Regions from separate parts of the Homo sapiens genome. Here region 2 is linked to region 1. The links come from fine-mapping of genetic effects on gene expression. A gene starts in region 1. The other region holds a variant in brackets. All regions are shown on one strand. Distances are from middle to middle.

Region 1 (8,312 bases):
TGTGCCTGGGGAGGCAACACTTTCTACCGTTTGCTGGTTTATAAAAATCAAAGATGGCCAGGCACGGTGGCTCACGCCTGTAATCCCAGCACTTTGGGAGGCCGAGACGGGCAGATCACGAGGTCAGGAGATTGAGACCATCCTGGCTCTACTAAAATACCCTGTCTCTACTAAAAAAAATACAAAAAATTAGCCGGGCGTGGTGGCGGGCGCCTGTAGTCCCAGCTACTCGGGAGGCTGAGGCAGGAGAATGGCGTGAACCCGGGAGGCGGAGCTTGCAGTGAGCCGAGATCGCACCACTGCACTCCAGCCTGGGCGACAGAGTGAGACTCCGTCTCAAAAAAAAAATAAAAAAAATCAAAGATGGGGGCCTGCTGGGACCGTTTGATTTCTTCCCATTCAGACCCTGCCAGATCCTGAGGCTGGCCCAGCTGCCTGTGTCCTCTGGGGCTCCCTGAGGAGGCAGCACCAGCTGTGGTGTGCATGACGGACAGGGGTCCCAGTTGGGGGGTGCAGCCTCCCGATGGGCCAGGATGGGGGATGCTTGGGTGCCCTCAGGATGTGCAGGCTGGGCGGGAGGAAGCGGTGAGAGTCCACCCCTCCCCACCTTCCTCTTCTCTGCTGTTTTTTTTTGGAGACAGAGTCTCACTGTGTCGCCCAGGCTGGAGTGCAGTGGTGTGATCTCCGTTCACTGCACGCTCCGCCTCCCGGGTTCACACCATTCTCTTGCCTCAGCCTCCCGAGCAGCTGGGACCACAGGCGCCCGCCACCACAGCTGGCTAATTTTTTGTATTTTTAGTAGAGACGGGGTTTCACCGTGTTAGCGAAGATGGTCTCGATCTCCTGACCTCGTGATCCACCCGCCTCGGCCTTCCAAAGTGCTGGGATTACAGGCGAGAGCCACCGGGCCCGGCCATTCTCTGCTGTTTTCTGACTCAACATCATGAAACAGGACCTTAAGCTGAGAAGTGGTGAGATTGGGGCCATCCTCATTTCCACATAAGGCCGTGTTCCTGTTTACTGGGGGCTAGGACTTGGCATGTCTTTTTCGGGGATAGCCCAACCCTTCTGTGTGAAAGGGGTCGTGATGGTCACTGCAGGACAGCAAGCACACCTTGGCCCCTCAGTGGGCAGTGGGTGCAGGGCTGGACGAGGGCCCAGGGGGCAGAAGCTAGTGCGCCGATAGCGTGTGTCATCTGCGGCCTGTGAGCACTGATGATGCCCGAGTGGCGGAGGGCGGGATGCTTCCACGTGCTCAACTTTTTTTTTTTTTCTTGAGACAGAGTCTTGCTCTGTCGCTCAGGCTGGAGTGCAGTGGTGCCATCTTGGCTTACTGCAGCCTCCACTTCCCGGGTTCAAGTGATTCTCCTGCCTCAGCCTCCCGAGTAGCTGGGATTACAGGCGTCCGCCACCATGCCCGGATAATTTTTGTATTTTTAGAAGAGACCGGGGTTACACCATGTTGTCCAGGATGGTCTCAAACTCCTGACCTCAAGTGATCTTCCCACCTCGGCCTCCCAAAGTGTACGTATCTTTTTAGTAACGATATATTTGACGATGATTAAAAAAACCCGATCCTTGAAGGCCCTTGATAGATGCTGAGGTGAGTACAGGCCTGACTCTGAGGGTCATGCGCCTAGCAGGCGTCGCCCGGTGCACAGGGCCAGGAGCTGAGTCGTGCGGGACTGGATGGAGGCCAGGGGATATAGAAGACCTGGGCAGCTCCCCAGGACCAAGCCCTCTCGCCTAGGGCTCCCCGGGGAGTTAGGCCGAACCCTGCTGTGCCCTTCACTCTGCAGCCCTCGTGGGGATCATCACAGAGGCAGGAGCTGGCAACCGAGGTGACTGCCTTCGAGTGGAGGGAAACCGGGGCGGGATGTCGCCCGGCGGCTCCCACACGATGAGGGGAAAAGGCACTCCAGTCTGGGTGGCAGAGCGAGACTCCGTCTGAAAAAAAAAACAAAGGAAATGTAGAAACGCAGCCCACCCAGGTTTTCCACGGCCGTTCATGGTTACGCTTCTGGAAGGACCCGTGTCCTCTCAGATGTAGCAGGATTCCGATGGGAGCCACCCCGGGTCCCACTCGCCCCCGGGACCTGCCGTGGGAGCTTTCTTTCCTGGTGGGGTGCCTGACTCTGCCTGCACGTTCCCCCCGCTGTCTGTGGCACCACTTGGGACCGGGGACCCCTGCCCCCCTGGCAAGACCAGGTCAGCTCTGCCCCCGGGCCACGGAGCAGGAAGCAGAGCTGAGGCTGCTGAGGTGGCGCAGGGTTGCTGTGGGGGCCTGTGCGCCATGGGGGCCTGGGTGGGGGTGTTCTCACTTCCCCCGGAGTCTGGAAGGCCGTCTTTGTGATGGATTTGATGCAGATGTGTCCACTTTGCTTTTGTTGATGGCGTCTGAGGCTCTGGAGTCCATGGCAGCCTTGCCTCCGTTTGCATAATCTGAATTTTGGGAAAATTGCCCCTATGTGGACTAGTTGCAGGGACAGTGCCCTCCGCCAAGGCTGCCGGTGGTGTTTGCCTTATGTGTCCGGTGCTGGGTGAGTGCCAGCTTTTCCCTGGTCAGCTCTGCCCGTGGCCCTCACCTGTGGTCTGTGCCATCACCAGGGCGAGGCTGACCTGTGGGACGGGGTCCCTGCACAGCCTCGCCGTCCCCCACATCCCCCCAACAGGGTCTGGTCCCAGCTGCCATTGTGCAGCCTTGCCCCCTCCCCCCGCATCAGGGTCCGGTCCTGGCCGCTGTACCGCGATCACCTGTGGCCCTCCTGTGTTCTTTACCTGGACTCTTGCCTTTGCTGATGGCGACCTGTGACGGCTCAGCTGCGTTCTCAGAGGCCGGCTGTCCTCGTGGGCGTCTCCGGTGCAGTCGGCGCGGTGAGGTTGGCTTCTGCCATGGACGGGGCCTTCTCGTGGTGATGACAGTCGCCCTTGGTCTGGTGTCTGCAGTGCTCCGAGGACCGGCCCTGCCCATCCCTGGCGTTCACTCCTCAGCTTCCTCCCATGGGGTGGGCGGCTTCCCTCCTCTCCCTGATTTGTGGGGTGTTTCTCTTTTGCACCTGATGCGTTAAACCCATTACCGGCCTAGGTCAGCCTGAGGTTGGTTTGTCCTGGCCGCGGCAGCTCCTGCGCCCCTCCATTGTGGAGGGCGCCCTTCCGTCTGCCCTGCGTCACTGGGCTGGGCCTGGCCCCGCTCTGCTGTGGCCCTGGCACTGGAAGTATGTGCTGCCCTGGTGTTCGGGGGCTCTTGGGTCCTGGGGCGCTGCAACCCCTCATTTTCTTTCCTTGGGGTGCAGATGAATTGGGGTGGCAGGGAACCGAGCCCACAGTGGCCAGCCCCTGCGGCCCCAGGTCAGAGGGCAGGGCCGGCCTGGACAGAGCTGCCCAGAACGGTCTGCGGCCGGGTCCACATGAGTCTAGGTGCCTCTGAGGGCACTGGGACGGCGGTGGCCTGCACCTGCCCAGCCCAGTGAGGTCCCTGGCCTCCCTTCAGCTTTGCCCTGGGCTCTGGGCTGAGGGCTGTGTGGTGATGTCAGCCCAGGGACTGTGACATCACTCAGTGGAGACAGTCAGAGAAGGGGGCTCCCGGGGCCCTCCCCAGGGAACTGGCCCTGGGCCCAGACCAGATGGAGGACCCCGAAAAGAACAGGGCAGGTAGCAGCCTGAGGCTAGGGCTGGGGAAGGGGATGGGAGCTGACGGGGAGAGAGCAGCCCCTTGTGGGATGGCTGCAATCCCCTCGTTGGCGCCCGGGAGCCATCCTTGGCGTGTGACCCGGAGCCGGCACTCGCCCCCTGGGACGGAATCGTGGCTGCGTGGGTTGGGTGGAGGCTGGGTGAGGATCAGCGTCCCTTCGTCCCTCCCTGGGGTTGTTGCTTTTCGCTGTGGCCCTCAGGCAACAGGGCAGGCCCCCAACCCCCAGGCCTGCGTGGGCACTGTGGGTGCCCAGCCTTTACGTCCTCGCTTCCTTCCAGGCCCCGGCCTTGTCTGGCTTCCCTTGGGCACCCCCTGGGGTTCGGAGAGCCCCAGAAGAGGCCGGGCTCTTCCTCCTTGGTGATGGACGGGTGCTGGGCCCTGACCGAGTGGTGACCGCCTCCAGGGAGTGATCTGCGCCCTCGGAAGCTGCTGAGTCTTGGAGTGGCGGCTCTTGTTTGTGGGGGCAGGGGGAGCTGGGCACCCGCCCTGTGCCCACGGAACACAGCCCAGGGTGGCGGCCCTGCCTGTCCTCTGACTGCCCTCCTGCTGCTGCTGCTGCTGCTGCGAGGGCCTCAGGCGCAGGCGGTGACTCTCGGGGCCACTCCTGAGGTGGGGGATGTGGGCTAGCGGCCACCGTGGGCGGCAGGTGTGCAAGCAGTGCTCCCGTTTTCCACTGGGCTGCCCTTCACCGGCTGTGGGTCAGCGCCCCCCACTGAGGCTCAGGCTGAGGCGAGGCTCCGCGGGGTGGGCGTGTGCCAGGGTGAGGCTCCGCGGGGTGGGCGTGTGCCTGGGCGAGGCTCCGCGAGTCGGGGGCAGCGCCCAGGTCAGGGGCTTCTCCGTCCATGTCAGGCTTAGGGTGGGTGTGGCTGGGCCCTCCCTCTGCTGTCCGCCCACGACCCCCTCAGAGGGGCTGTCGTGAGATGCTTGGAGGCGGGATCCAGCCCTGAGGGTGCAGGGAGTGCTCAGCGGACCCCCGTGCCACTGCTGTCACCGGAGGAGGCTGCTGCTCGGCTCCGGGCTCCATCTGCAAAGCCGGGTGTGCATCTGTGTGGCTCAGCTCTGCAGGGCACAGTGGGGTTTGCTCCCGGCCGGCCCTGAGGCCGGGCACAGGGAGGCCAGTGCTCATCCAGGGGGCCAGAGAGAAAGTAGCAACCCCAACCTGCCTGGGCCACAACAGCCAAGACCACTGTATCAGAACAGACGCCAGCGGGGCAGCCTGCTCGTTGGCCGGGCGGAGCAGGGTCGGCACACAGCCCGGGCTGGCCTTCACCCCAGCTCCCGACAGCGTTGGGTCCCTGAGTGCAGGGCCTGCCCCTTTCTCATCCTCCTGCCTCCAGGTCATGGGGCAGGGGTGCCGAGAGGCCCTGCGGGAGCCAGGACCTGAGAGGTGATGGTCACCACCCAGACGAGGGGCCGGGGGTCGCACAAGGAGGCTTCCAGGGGGATGCCAGGAGCAGTGGGGCCCTAGACCCAGCAGTGGGTAGACCCAGCAGGGCAGCGCTCACGTCACAGGTTCTGGGGGTTGGGGCTTGTCATCTGTGCAGGTGCAGCTGGGATGGGGATTTGGTGCTTTTTGTTCTGCAAAAGCCAGAACGCATGTAGCTGAGCCAAGATCAGACGGCATGGTGCCTCATGCCTGTGGTCCCAGCTACCTGGGAGGATGAGGCGGGAAAATTGCTTGAACTCGGGAGGCGGAGGTTGTAATGAGCCGAGATCCTGCCACTGCACTCCAGCCTGGGTGATGGAGCTAGATCCTGTCTCAAAAAACAAAAGACCACGCATCCTAGCCGGCAAGGCCACTCTGTACTCAGACCCGGCAGCTGTGGCTGTGGCACAGGCGCTTACCCTGCGGCATTGGCCCTTTCAGTGGTTGGTGTTGACCCTCCACAGAGGGGCTGGGTGGGGTGTGTCCAGTCCCATCTGGGTAGACTGAGTGTTGGGGATGGGAGAGTGTTTAAGGAGGTGGCGGTTACAGACTCCAGCATCGGGACACGGGGCCGTGGGTCATACCCACATCCGTGGGGGCTGTGAGACAGCCGTCCAGAAGCTTCTGTCTCCGGGCCAGGAGGACACCCCAGAGAGCCCCAGGAGGCTCGTTCCGGAATTTAGGGCTCAGCCTCGATGAACCTGGCCAGGCGGCGGTTGATGGGTTAATTCAGTTAATCACACATCACTCAGGGTTTCTCAGCAGAAGGAACTGACCAAGCCAATGGCTCACCTGGAAGAGAGAAGGAGGGAGGAGGAGGGGATTCTGCAGAGGGAAGGCTGGTGGTGGCGCCCCCCTTCGACGGTCGTGCCCTGATGCTGCGTGGCTTAAACGGTGCCACCCGGAGATTGGTGGGCGGGATTGGGCCTCTGGGGTCCCCGGCTGTGGAGAGGGCAAGGCAGGGGCGGCTAGAAAGAAAAGCAACCTGGACGCAGGCCCCACCTCCCTCCAGGCAGCCCCACAGGCCCGAGGGCCACCGTGTCAGGAGGGATAGCCTACACGGAGAGCAGGCCAGTGGCCCTGTGCCCAGGAGGGTGCCTTGCCCAGCCTGGAGGCCCGCAAGGATGAGAAGCAGTGTGTGCCCGGGAGGTCACGTGGGCACCACAGACGAAAGTGGAGCCGGGGGAGAGATGTCCCGGGATGCACCAGGCGCTCGTGCAAACCAAGTGCTGAGCAGAGAGCAGCCTGGGAGAGAAGGGGGCTGCCCCGAGCGGCTTGGGTGGCCGGGCCTGTGGGAGACCTTGGGTTTGCTGTTAGGAGGGACAGTGAGCGCAGGCACCTCTCTCTCCACTTCATGTTTGTCCTCACTGAGGGAGCCGAGCAGATGCCTTTGCCCCTGCAGGTCCCCCATGTCCCCTCGCCCGGGGCGCGCTCCACAGGCTAGGCCACTTTCACAGCTCACCACACAGGCAGAGACTGGAGGGTGCGCAGGACCCCGGGTGACTGCAGACGTGGGCACAGAGGGGCCTCTGAGGGCGTCTGGCGGCATTTGAGCAGCTGCCAGATCTCCCCTGGAAACACTGGGGTGTGTGCTCGGTGGGTGCCGTGTGTGGGGGGTATGTGCTCGGCGGGCGCCGTGTTTGTGGGGTGGGAGCTAGGCGGGCGCCGTTTATGTGGGGTGGGCGCTCGGCGGGCACTGTGTGTGTGGCACGGCCACTGCTTAGGGCCCCCTGGAGCTGCGGGGCACACGGCAGAGCCAGCCTCATGTCACCACGTGCTTCCCCCGTGTGCAGGGAGGGGTTGGAGGTGTGCGCTTGTCTTGTCCGGAAGCCGGGTGTTGGGACGCGTCCTGACGACGGCACTGCCCACATCCTAATGGGACACCTGAGGGACATCGGTGGCTGAGTAAGGGGCCCCTCCCGAGCAGGTCTGGAGGCGTTGGAAGCACAGCGCAGCCTCATGGGGCACCTGCCTGCTCTGCCTGGAATTGAGGGGCGATTGGGACTCCCACTGCCCCCACCAAAGCCTGTGCCCCTGATGTCTGTCCAGAGCACGGCTTCCTTCTCGGTGGTTCCCAGAGGCCGCTGGGCCTCGCTTCGTCCTTTTTGGGCAGCGAGTGTGTATGTTAGGGGAACAGGAGCCCGGCAGGGCCGTCTTGCAGGGCTCAGCAGTGGGGGCCGTGGGGTTGGTGCACCAGGGCAGGAGAGCTGCCCGGCTCCTGCTAGGTGTCTAGAGGGCCTCAGCTCTCCCAGGCACTGTCCCCTGTCCCCCCATCTCCCCTGTCCCCCCCATCTCCCCATCCCCCCGTCCAGGGCCGCAGCAGCTCAGCTCTCCCAGGCACTGTCCCCTGTCCCTCCGTCCCCCCGTCCAGGGCTGCAGCAGCTCAGCTCTCCCAGGTACTGTCCCCCGTCCCCCTGTCCCCCCGTCCCCCCGTCCAGGGCCGCAGCAGCTCAGCTCTCCTAGGCACTGTCCCCCGTCCCCTCGTCCCCCCATCCAGGGCTGCAGCAGCTCAGCTCTCTCAGGCACTGTCCCCCCTCCCCTCGTCCCCCCATCCAGGGCCGCAGCAGCTCAGCTCTCCCAGGCACTGTCCCCCGTCCCCCTGTCCCCCCATCCAGGGCCGCAGCAGCCCAGCTCTCCCAGGCACTGTCCTCCGTTACCCCGTCCAGGCACTCTCCCCCCGTCCCCCATCCCCCGTCCAGGCACTGTCCCCCCTCCCCCCGTCCCCCCCACCCCCGTCCAGGGCCACAGCAGCCGGTATTGAGTGTGGGTATGAGCTTTGGCTCTGGGTCCTGAGCGTCCCTTCCCCAAATTCCCCATGTGGCTTCCCAGTCTGCATCTCCATCTGCTCCCAGGGTGCGAGTTGGTTTTTGTATTAATAACTGAGGTGTGACACTCGGGCTGTACCCGCTAGCTGTGTAACTCATGCAGCTCAGTGCCTTTAGCTCATCATGAGGCTGTGTCTCTGTCTGTGCCATCTAATAGAGGATATTTTCATCCTCATGGCGAGAAGGGATGGATTTGTTTTCCTCGTGAAGTCGGTGACGTTTGCTTTTCAGGTTTGGTTGGTGGCCTCCAGTCTCTTGTCCTCAACGAGGGTTTTGGCAGCTCCCTCTCAGTGGCCTGTGAGTGTCCCCACTCCCTTGTCTGGGAAAGGGCTGGAGCTCTGGGGCTCACAGAGAGGGTGGGTGTGATGTC
Region 2 (8,312 bases), 550 kb before region 1:
AGGATAGCTGGAGTCCAGGAGTTCAAGGCTGCAGTGAGCTATGACTGCATCATTGCACTCCAGCTTGGGCAACAGAGTGAGAGCCTGTCTCAAAATAAAAGAAAAAAAAGTGTTTTGTACTATTTGTCTGTGATCTTGTTCCTTGTATTTTTTTTTTTTGAGACAGAGTCTTGCCGTGTCGCCCAGGCTGGAGTGTAGTGGCACGATCTCGGCTCACTGCAAGCTCTGCCTCCTGGGTTCAAGCAATTCTACTGCCTCAGCCTCCTGAGTAGCTGGGACTACAGGCGCCTGCCACCATGCCGAGCTAATTTTTTGTACTTTTAGTAGAGACGGGGTTTCACCATGTTAGCCAGGATGGTCTCGATCTCCTGACCTCGTGATCCGCCCACCTTGGCCTCCCAAACTGCTGGGATTCCAGGAGTGAGCCACCATGCTCGGCCCTTTTTTTTCTAAGAGGGAGTCTTGCTCTGTTGCCCAGGTTGGTGTGCAGTGGCGCGATCTCGGCTCACTGCAACCTCTACTTCCTGCCTTCAAGCATTTCTCCGGCCTTAGCTTCCCGAGTAGCTGGGATTACAGGCGCCCACCACCACGCCCGGCTAATTTTCTTTTGTATTTTTAGTAGAGACGGGGTTTCACTATATATGTTGGCTAGGCTGGTCTCGATCTCCTGACCTAAATTGATCCTCGGCCTCCCAAAGTGTTGGGATTATAGGCGTGCGCCACCTCACCCGGCCTTGTTCCTTGTATTTATTTAATTCTGTGATGATGAATAAACCAAACGATCAGGCTGTCAATGTGCTGTGAGATTAAGGAGAAAAGCAGTAGGCAGCACGTACCCGGTTTTACAAAACCCTGCGGGTCACCTGTTTACTACCGTCAGCCTAGACCGGTTTTTCCACCTCCTTCTGCTGACATTGGAGGACGGGTATCATTCTTTTTGGGGGGTCGTCGTGTGCACTGCAGGGTGCTGAGCGGCATGTCTGGTCTGGACCCACTCGATGCCAGCAGCACCCCGCACTCAAGTTGTGACAACCAAAACCGTGTTTTCAGACATTGCCAAGTTATCCCCTAGGGGGCAAAGTCACCCAGAAGAAGAACCACTGATGTATGCAATTAACAGATGCAACTAAAACAGTATTTGGCTATTAATAGTAATAGCACTTGGGGGGGGGGTCAATAATATCTTTTCATAGTCATTGAATTTAGTTAATTGTTTTGATTTGATTCCAGTTCAGCCCCGAACTGGGTGACCTTGGCCAAGTGACTCAGCCTCTCGGACCCTCGGGATCCTCTTCTGTGAAATGCGGACAGGGGAAGGAGCCTCGCGCGGGACGCTCACGTGCCGTTCCCGCTCCGTCCGCCCGCCTGGGGTGCGGGCGGGTACACTCCCACTCCCCGCAGCGCCCCACGCGGCTCCACCGCTTCCGAGTGAAGAGTTAAAGAGGAAGCGGCAGCCGCGCCTGCGCCCACAGTGCCTAGCCCGGAGCGCCGGTCTCGCAAGCGCGCACGCGCACGCAAGCCCGCACGCGCGCGCACGCACGCACGTGGCTCGGCCCGCGCGCATCCTCCCCTTGCAGGGGCGGGGCCAGCGCAGGGACTCCATTTCCCAGCGTGCCCCGCGGCAACGCCAGGAGCCTCCGAGGAGAAAGGAAAACGCGCGACGGCCCCGACTGCGGCGGCGCGAAATCCGCCTCAGGGACGCACGCACAGACGGAGTACCCCTGGACCCGCCCCCGGAGACCCCGTGCGGGAGCGCGCCCGGGCGTGCGCAGGGGCGGCGGCGCGGCGGCGCGGGGACGCGCGGTGACCGTTGGCGCCGAGGGGAGGAGGCAGCCGCCGCCGCCGCCGCCGCCGCCGCCGCCGCCGCCGCCGCCGTTGCGCAGATCCGGGCCGCGGCTGTGGGGAGGGCGACGGAGCGGGTGACCTTCCGGAGGCGGGAGCGAGCGAGGAGGCCCGGGAGCGCCGAGCGTCGCCGCCGCCGCCGCCATGAACAACTCGGGCGCCGACGAGATCGGGTGAGGACGAGCGGCGCGGGCCTGCGTCTCCGCCCCGAGCCCGGCCCGCCGCTCCCCGCCGCCCGGCCTCAGACGCCGCCCCCCGGGGCCGCCCCGTCAAGGTCACGCCGGCCGGGGGCGGACTCGGGACCCGGACTCGCCGCGGCTTCGCGCCGGGGGCCCTGGACGGGTGCCCGGGGTCTGGGGGGGTCCTGGCGCCCCCGCCGCCGCTTCCCGGCTTCCCGTCCTGGGGGATCCTGAAGGAGAGCCTGAGGGGTCCGGGGGGCCCCGCCGCCGCCTCCAGACTTCCTGGTCGGGGGAACCCCGAACGGCAACCTGGGGGGGTGTCCTGGGGCGCCCGTGCCGCCGCTTCCCGACTGCGCGTCCTGAGGGACCCCGAATGGGAGCCAGAGGGGTTCAGGGGCCCCCGCCGCCGCTTCCTGGTTGTGGCGGCCCCGAACGGGAACTTGGGGGGGTCTGGAGCGTCCCCGTTGCCGCCTGTAGGGCTTCCTGGCCTGGGGGACCCCGAATGAGAACCTGAGGGAGTCTGCGGGGAGTCCAGGGCGCCGTCGCCGCCGCCTCCCGGCTTCCTGGCCAGGGGGACCCCAAACTGTGGCGTGGGGGGTGGTCCGGGGCGCCCCCAGCGCGCGCCCAAACTTGGCGGGCGGCGCACGTGGCGAGCCGAGGCGAGGGTTCCGGTTCTGCCACCGCCCAACCTATCCCACTCGGGGCTCCGGGCTCCCCGCTCCCATCCCACCCCCCCAAAGTGGTAAGGTCGGGAGGGGTTCGCAAACCCAGGGCCCAGGGGGCTCGGGTCAGCCGGGGCCTGCTGTGTTTACGTTGCCTCGGCGCCTCCCCGCCGGGGGTGGGCTTGAGCTGCGGAAGGGAGAGTCAGCGCTTCCGAGGCGGCGACGGGCCCGCGGATCTTTGCTGCGCCGAGGCGTCCCCTCCTATAGGAGCCTGACCTGCTCCGGACCCCGCGGGGCCGGGAAACCTCATTTCGCTGTGCCCCAGGGCTCGGCGCCATTCTTTGGTAGGAGCGGCTCCTG[C/T]CGCAGCGACGTCGTTTTAGAGTTGCATTCTTCCGGCAAAACAGTCTGGGTTGGGTTTCCTAGTGGTCTGGTGTAAATTTCTCGGTGCCCTTAGCTTTGAGCAGCGCCCTGTGTTCTCAGCGCTGGGCTTGGCTAGTGCGGGAGCGGTTGCTGCTAGAGGGTTGCCTTGGCAGGCGCCTCTCGCACCAGCTACAGGTCACACTTGTGGATGGGAAATGCCTTTTGTGGGCTCTCCCCCTCCCCAGACAAAACAAAAGAGCACCTTCCGTTGGAGAACCAGGATGAAAGCACTTAGCCCCTGCCTAGCCCGTGCTGTGAGTCCTCTCCAGGCACTTTGACTTGGCAGGGTCCGTGTGCCTGTGTGAGGGACATTGCAGGGATGGGCCTGAGCAGGGAGTCCACCGGCCATGGGGGATGGAGCCATCGACTTTGGGGTGAGGCAGGGAAAGGGCTCCCAGATGGGGTACCTGGATTAGGTCCATTCAAGCCGCGGGTGAACGTGGGCCCGCTCCACCCAAGCCGTGGCTGTGAGGAGGCTGGAGAGAGGTGAGGGCTCCTGTCCCCTCCCTGCATGGACACCCTTGGGAAGTGGGGCAGCTGGGGTCCCAGCCTGGGTCTGGAGGGGTCCCACCCACAGCACAAATAGGCTCGCAGGCCACCCGGACGCCACGGGCTGCGTGGAGGAGAACTGGAGTGCATGGACCCTGCTCTCCTCCCCGGCTGCCAGGAGTGTCCACTGCTTTCTAAGTCAGACTCCTTGGGCAAGAAGTGTTGCCACAGCCGCCCGTCGCATGGGAGACCGGCTTCCATTCTATGCGGAGTCCACGGTCTGCTCTGATCTTGCTGTGTGGAGTTGTTGTGTGCGTGAAATGCTTGTGACCCTGCGAAGCGCCCTCCTGGCAAGTCCCCTGCAGGTGCGGTGGGTGCCATGCAGGAGGGTGCTGAGCTTGGATGGAAGCAGGCCCTCTCTGCGGCAGATGGCGGCTCTCAGGACGCCATGGGTCTGCGGTGTCCCTTACCCACTGGGGGGGCTCGGCAGCCTGAGGAGCTCCCTCTTCCTGATGCAGAGCCCTCACTGCTCACTGCCATGGAGGAGGCAGGAGATCCCGCCGGACCCCGCTTGGAGGGCTGGGCCTGGAGCATGCATGGGTGCGGGGTCAACGCCTCAGGAGACTTGGAGCTTGGGAGCCCCCTGTTCTGGGACACTTGTGGCCGTCCAGCTGCTGCCCTGGGAATCCACACCTGGAAGGTGGGTTAGGGAGCCATCCTTGGGGGAAGCTCTGCTTTTGAGTCTGAGAAGTCGTCCCAAGTTTTGAGGGTCCCTGTGCTGGCTTAGAAGTCCATGTAAAGCTTGATGGGGGATGAAAGTCAGCTGAGGCCTGCCGGTGATAACGGATGCCTTACACACACCGACTTCCAGTCAGCTTGAGGGGGGCTTCATGCAGGAGGAAGCGCATACGTGTGGTGGGGTGTGGGGAGTCCCTCTCTGGATCCTGGTGGGTTTGGCACGCGGACCCTACATGGTGGATGTGATGGACAGTGTCCTCCTTTGGGAGCGGGGCCTGTCCTGGTCCTCTTGTGAAGGGTGGGGGACAGGCACTGACCTGTCAGGAGGGTTAGAGGGTTGGCACCAGCAGGTGGCCTGGAGCGCTCAGAGCACGCGCGATCAGGAAGGCCCGAGTCTCCAGTGTGCCCTCCCTGGCCTTGTGAAGTCATCTTAAAGTCTGGCTTGAGCGCCTCTGACTTGGATTCTGGGAAGCTGACACAGCGCGGCCGGGGTCGCCACATCCTGTTGAGTAGCCGCTGGGTGCTAGGCGCCTGGGTGGTAGACCAGGTGTCAGGGATAGGGCCCATGCCTGGCCTACTGGGGAGAGGACAGAGGCTCAGAGGGGTCACCTCGAGCGCCCAGGCCATTGTGTTCTGCTGGCTTCCAAGGCAGCACACGGTCATGGAACTGGAGAGAGAGGTTTATGGAAGATTTTATCTGGTACACTGGGGAATGGTAAGACAGGGACACCTGGAAATATTGTAGGAAAGTCACAGAGGGAGGAAGGACTCAGCGGAGAGAGGAGAAAGCCGCCTCTGGGCAGCTTCGAGGATACCCAGGACTGTGGCCGGGGGCCATGCAGCTCAGAGCCAGGCCCATGGCAGGTCTCTGGGTTTATTGGGTGGCTGTGGAAGGAGACATCCTGAGTGGGGCTCCTGGCTGGGCCCCTAGAGGCCGTGACTACTTGTACCTGTGCAGAGTGAGCACAAGGCACCTGGCAAGATTGTTGGTCAGGCCAGAGAGGGCCGTGATCTGGGGGAGGCTGTTGCAGTGCGGGGAGTGATAGGGAACCTCATGGGGCCGTGCCGGCCTTTCTGGGGCTCTCTTGGTGCATTTGGAGTTATTCCGAGGCAGGTCTCCTGGGCTCTGTCAGCACTCTGGCCTGGATCACTCTGGGGCACCGTGGGCACTGCAGGGTGCTGGGCAGCACCTTTGGCCTCCATTCACTCCGGGTCAGGAGTACCCCCAGTCGTGACAACCACAAATGTTCCCAGACATCACCCAGTGTCCTGCTGGGGGGAGAGCCACTGTCTGGGAGCATCTGTGCTTTTGGCCTGGTTGCCCCTGCGCTGGGGGCCGCTGCTCCTTGTGGTTTATGGCTTGTCCTGTGTCGGCTCCTTTGATTCCTGTGAATGGGCCTTGAGGGTGGATGTGCTCCTGACTGGCTCGCCTTGGCTCCAATGGTCTGGAGCAGGCCGGTGTCTAGAAAGGCAGCAGCATGGACCCTGGCGCTTGCCCTTCACACAGCAGCTCCCCAGTGGCCCAGAGCTAGCAGCAGCGCGCAGCGTGCCCAGCTGTGCTTGTAGCCTTGGCTCTAACCCTTGGCTTTGCCAGAGAGACTGAGGCACAGAGGAGTTGAGGGATGGGCCCGGGGTCACCCCAGGGGGTGGAAGATCCGGAGCTGGGAGTCCACACTCCTCCACTGCCCGCCCCGCACAGAGGGCGCTCCTGGTCAGGCGGCTATGTTCATGGTGCGACCCGTCAATCTGAGGTTGTGCTGTCTTCTGTGAACTGAGGCCTTTTCCCATCCAGGCCTGGTCCCCGTGACACCATGTCATGATGTCAGAATCCCTGAGAGCTGTGACAGGGCTTTTGGCAGAGGCCAGTCATTCGACAGATGCTTATAGGCTGAGCTTCCAGCTTGGCTCCAGGCGTTGCCAAGGAGAACACTGGTCCGCCTGGGAGGGCGGGGCTGGCAGGGAGAGGATGAGGGTGACCACAGTTAGCACCCAGGATGTGGGCATTCAGGGGCTCCTTCAGCACACAGCAGCGCGTTCCAGTTCACGGACCGCTCCTGTGTTCTGTGGACCCCACACCCTGCAGGCGTGGGCTGGAGGGGGGGCATCTGACCCTGCTGGGGAGAGGGAGTCCAGGCTATGGAGGGGCGGGCTGGGCTCACTGGCCTGAGGCAGTGGGTGAAGTGGTCCTGGTTTCCCACCTGGTCTTAGGGGCAGGAAAGTCCCTAGAGGCTCTTCCTGATGCTCTGGAAGAAGAGAAGGGTTCCCCACACATCAGCCGCCACTGGGCCTGGACTTCTGCCTCTTGAGATTGTGCACGGAGCTGAGTGTGACTGGCGGAGCCCAGAGCCAGGTGGGGTCTGTGGGGAGGCAGGCTCCTCCTGGCTTGGTCCCCCGGCCCAGCAGGAAGGGAAAGGTCGCCTGCCAACTGCCCCCATTGAGGCTGCTGGCCCCGAATGGCCGGGCTGGCCGCCGGTTTTTGAAGCCCACTCTGGTGCTGCCAGGAGGTCAGGGCTCTTTGTGGTCAGCCTAGGCCAGAGGAAGCCTCTGCAGATGGACTTTACGCATAAATACCGCACAGGCACCCGAATGGCACGCAGCAAGCGAGGTTGCCATCCAAAACGGCTTTTGCTTTAACAGGCAGAAGAGGGTGGCTGCGCCGGCCACCGTGGATTGAGCACCTGCCAGGTGTCGAGCTGCAGGCCCTGGGTGCCAGGCTTGCAGATCCTGGGAGATGTTCATCATGACCTTTGATGGGCAGACTGCACGCTGGACTCCAGGTTGCAAGGGAAGAAGTGGAGCTCGTCCCACGCCTCCCCCACTAATGAGAACACCCCTTTTGGGTTTGTGGGGTGTGAGGTCTGTAGGAGCCACGACTTCCAGTGTCGGAGATGCCGTCAGCTGGGTGATGACTCTCCCACCCAGCGGGCCCCTCAGAGGCAGGGTGCAGGAGCCACATTGCTCACCGACCCCTTCATCTGCGTAGGCCAGTGTTGCCTTGCCCCGTTAACGTCCTCAGTCCACACGCCGCCAGCCAAGGTGCAGGCTGAGCAAGCCTGGAGCTGAGGACAAGCGGACCGCCAGCCCCGTAGCAAGCCCACGAGAGCCAGCAGCTCCTCCTTTTGGCCTCTGCCCGCGCCCGGCTTCCTGGACTCCGACGTTTACTTGTGTGAGAGTTGGTTCTGCTGCCTGGGCAGTTGATGGACAGTGTCTGGGAGGTGCCTGCCCAGGGCTCCGCATGTTTCTGATGTGCCGGCTTCTCACTCACGACCTGGTGAGGTTGGCAGCCAGGAGCTTTCTTATTTTATTGATTAAAACATCCTGAGATTCAGAAGTAGGGACTTTGTGCCAGGGCCCTGGAGGCAGTCCCTGCCACTGAAGAGATGACCCTGCTTTCCGGGACTTCCCGGAGGCTTCTGTCTGTAGACCAGGGAGAAGGTGTTCGCCGGTGGCTCCTGAGTGGTAGTAAAAGACACATGGACACAGGAAGCTTTAGCGTTAGAAGCTGCTCTCAAATATCTCAACAGAAACACACAGTGTGGCCGCGCGCGGTGCCTCACGCCTGTCATCCTAGCACTTTGGGAGGCCGAGGCGGGCGGGTCACCTGCGGTGGGGAGCTCCAGACACAGCTATGTGAAACGAAAGCTATCTGTTGCTGTCTCAGATTCCATAAGGACTGAGACTTGTTTCAAAAGAAACTGAAATTCTGTCTTGTTCTCAGTAATGAAAGTCTTTTATACCATAATTGTATATATAACTTCTGACTTACAGGAAAATTACAAAAATTCCCATATCCTCTTGGCCCTGCCAGACTCACCATTGGCTGACATTTTACCCTTTGGCACGTGGTGCCTCTTGCCCCACCCCCAGTGAACTGTGTGTGTGTGTGTGTGTGTGTGTGTGTGTGTGTGTGTGTGTTTAGATGGACCCTCACTCTGTCGCCCAGGCTGGAGTGCAGTGGCTTGATCTTGGCTCAGTGCAACCT

What was found.
Region 2: its variant is fine-mapped to the expression of CSNK1G2-AS1 in unexposed skin (GTEx, PIP above 0.99).

Annotation. Positions count from the first base shown.
Region 1 is chr19:1,951,065-1,959,376 of GRCh38, forward strand. It overlaps CSNK1G2-AS1 (CSNK1G2 antisense RNA 1), which reads right to left and starts at 3,485. Exons shown (of 3, transcript NR_033400.1): 1 at 2,779-3,485; 2 at 2,322-2,442; 3 at 1,463-1,947. All of the region lies in intron 1 of CSNK1G2 (casein kinase 1 gamma 2), which reads left to right. RefSeq lists an enhancer at 3,866-4,817.
Region 2 is chr19:1,405,788-1,414,099 of GRCh38, forward strand. DAZAP1 (DAZ associated protein 1) reads left to right here and starts at 1,799. Exons shown (of 12, transcript NM_018959.4): 1 at 1,799-2,015. The coding sequence starts at 1,987. RefSeq lists silencers at 1,643-1,872, 2,013-2,222, 2,603-2,702. The variant C/T (reference allele first, on the strand shown) is at 3,044.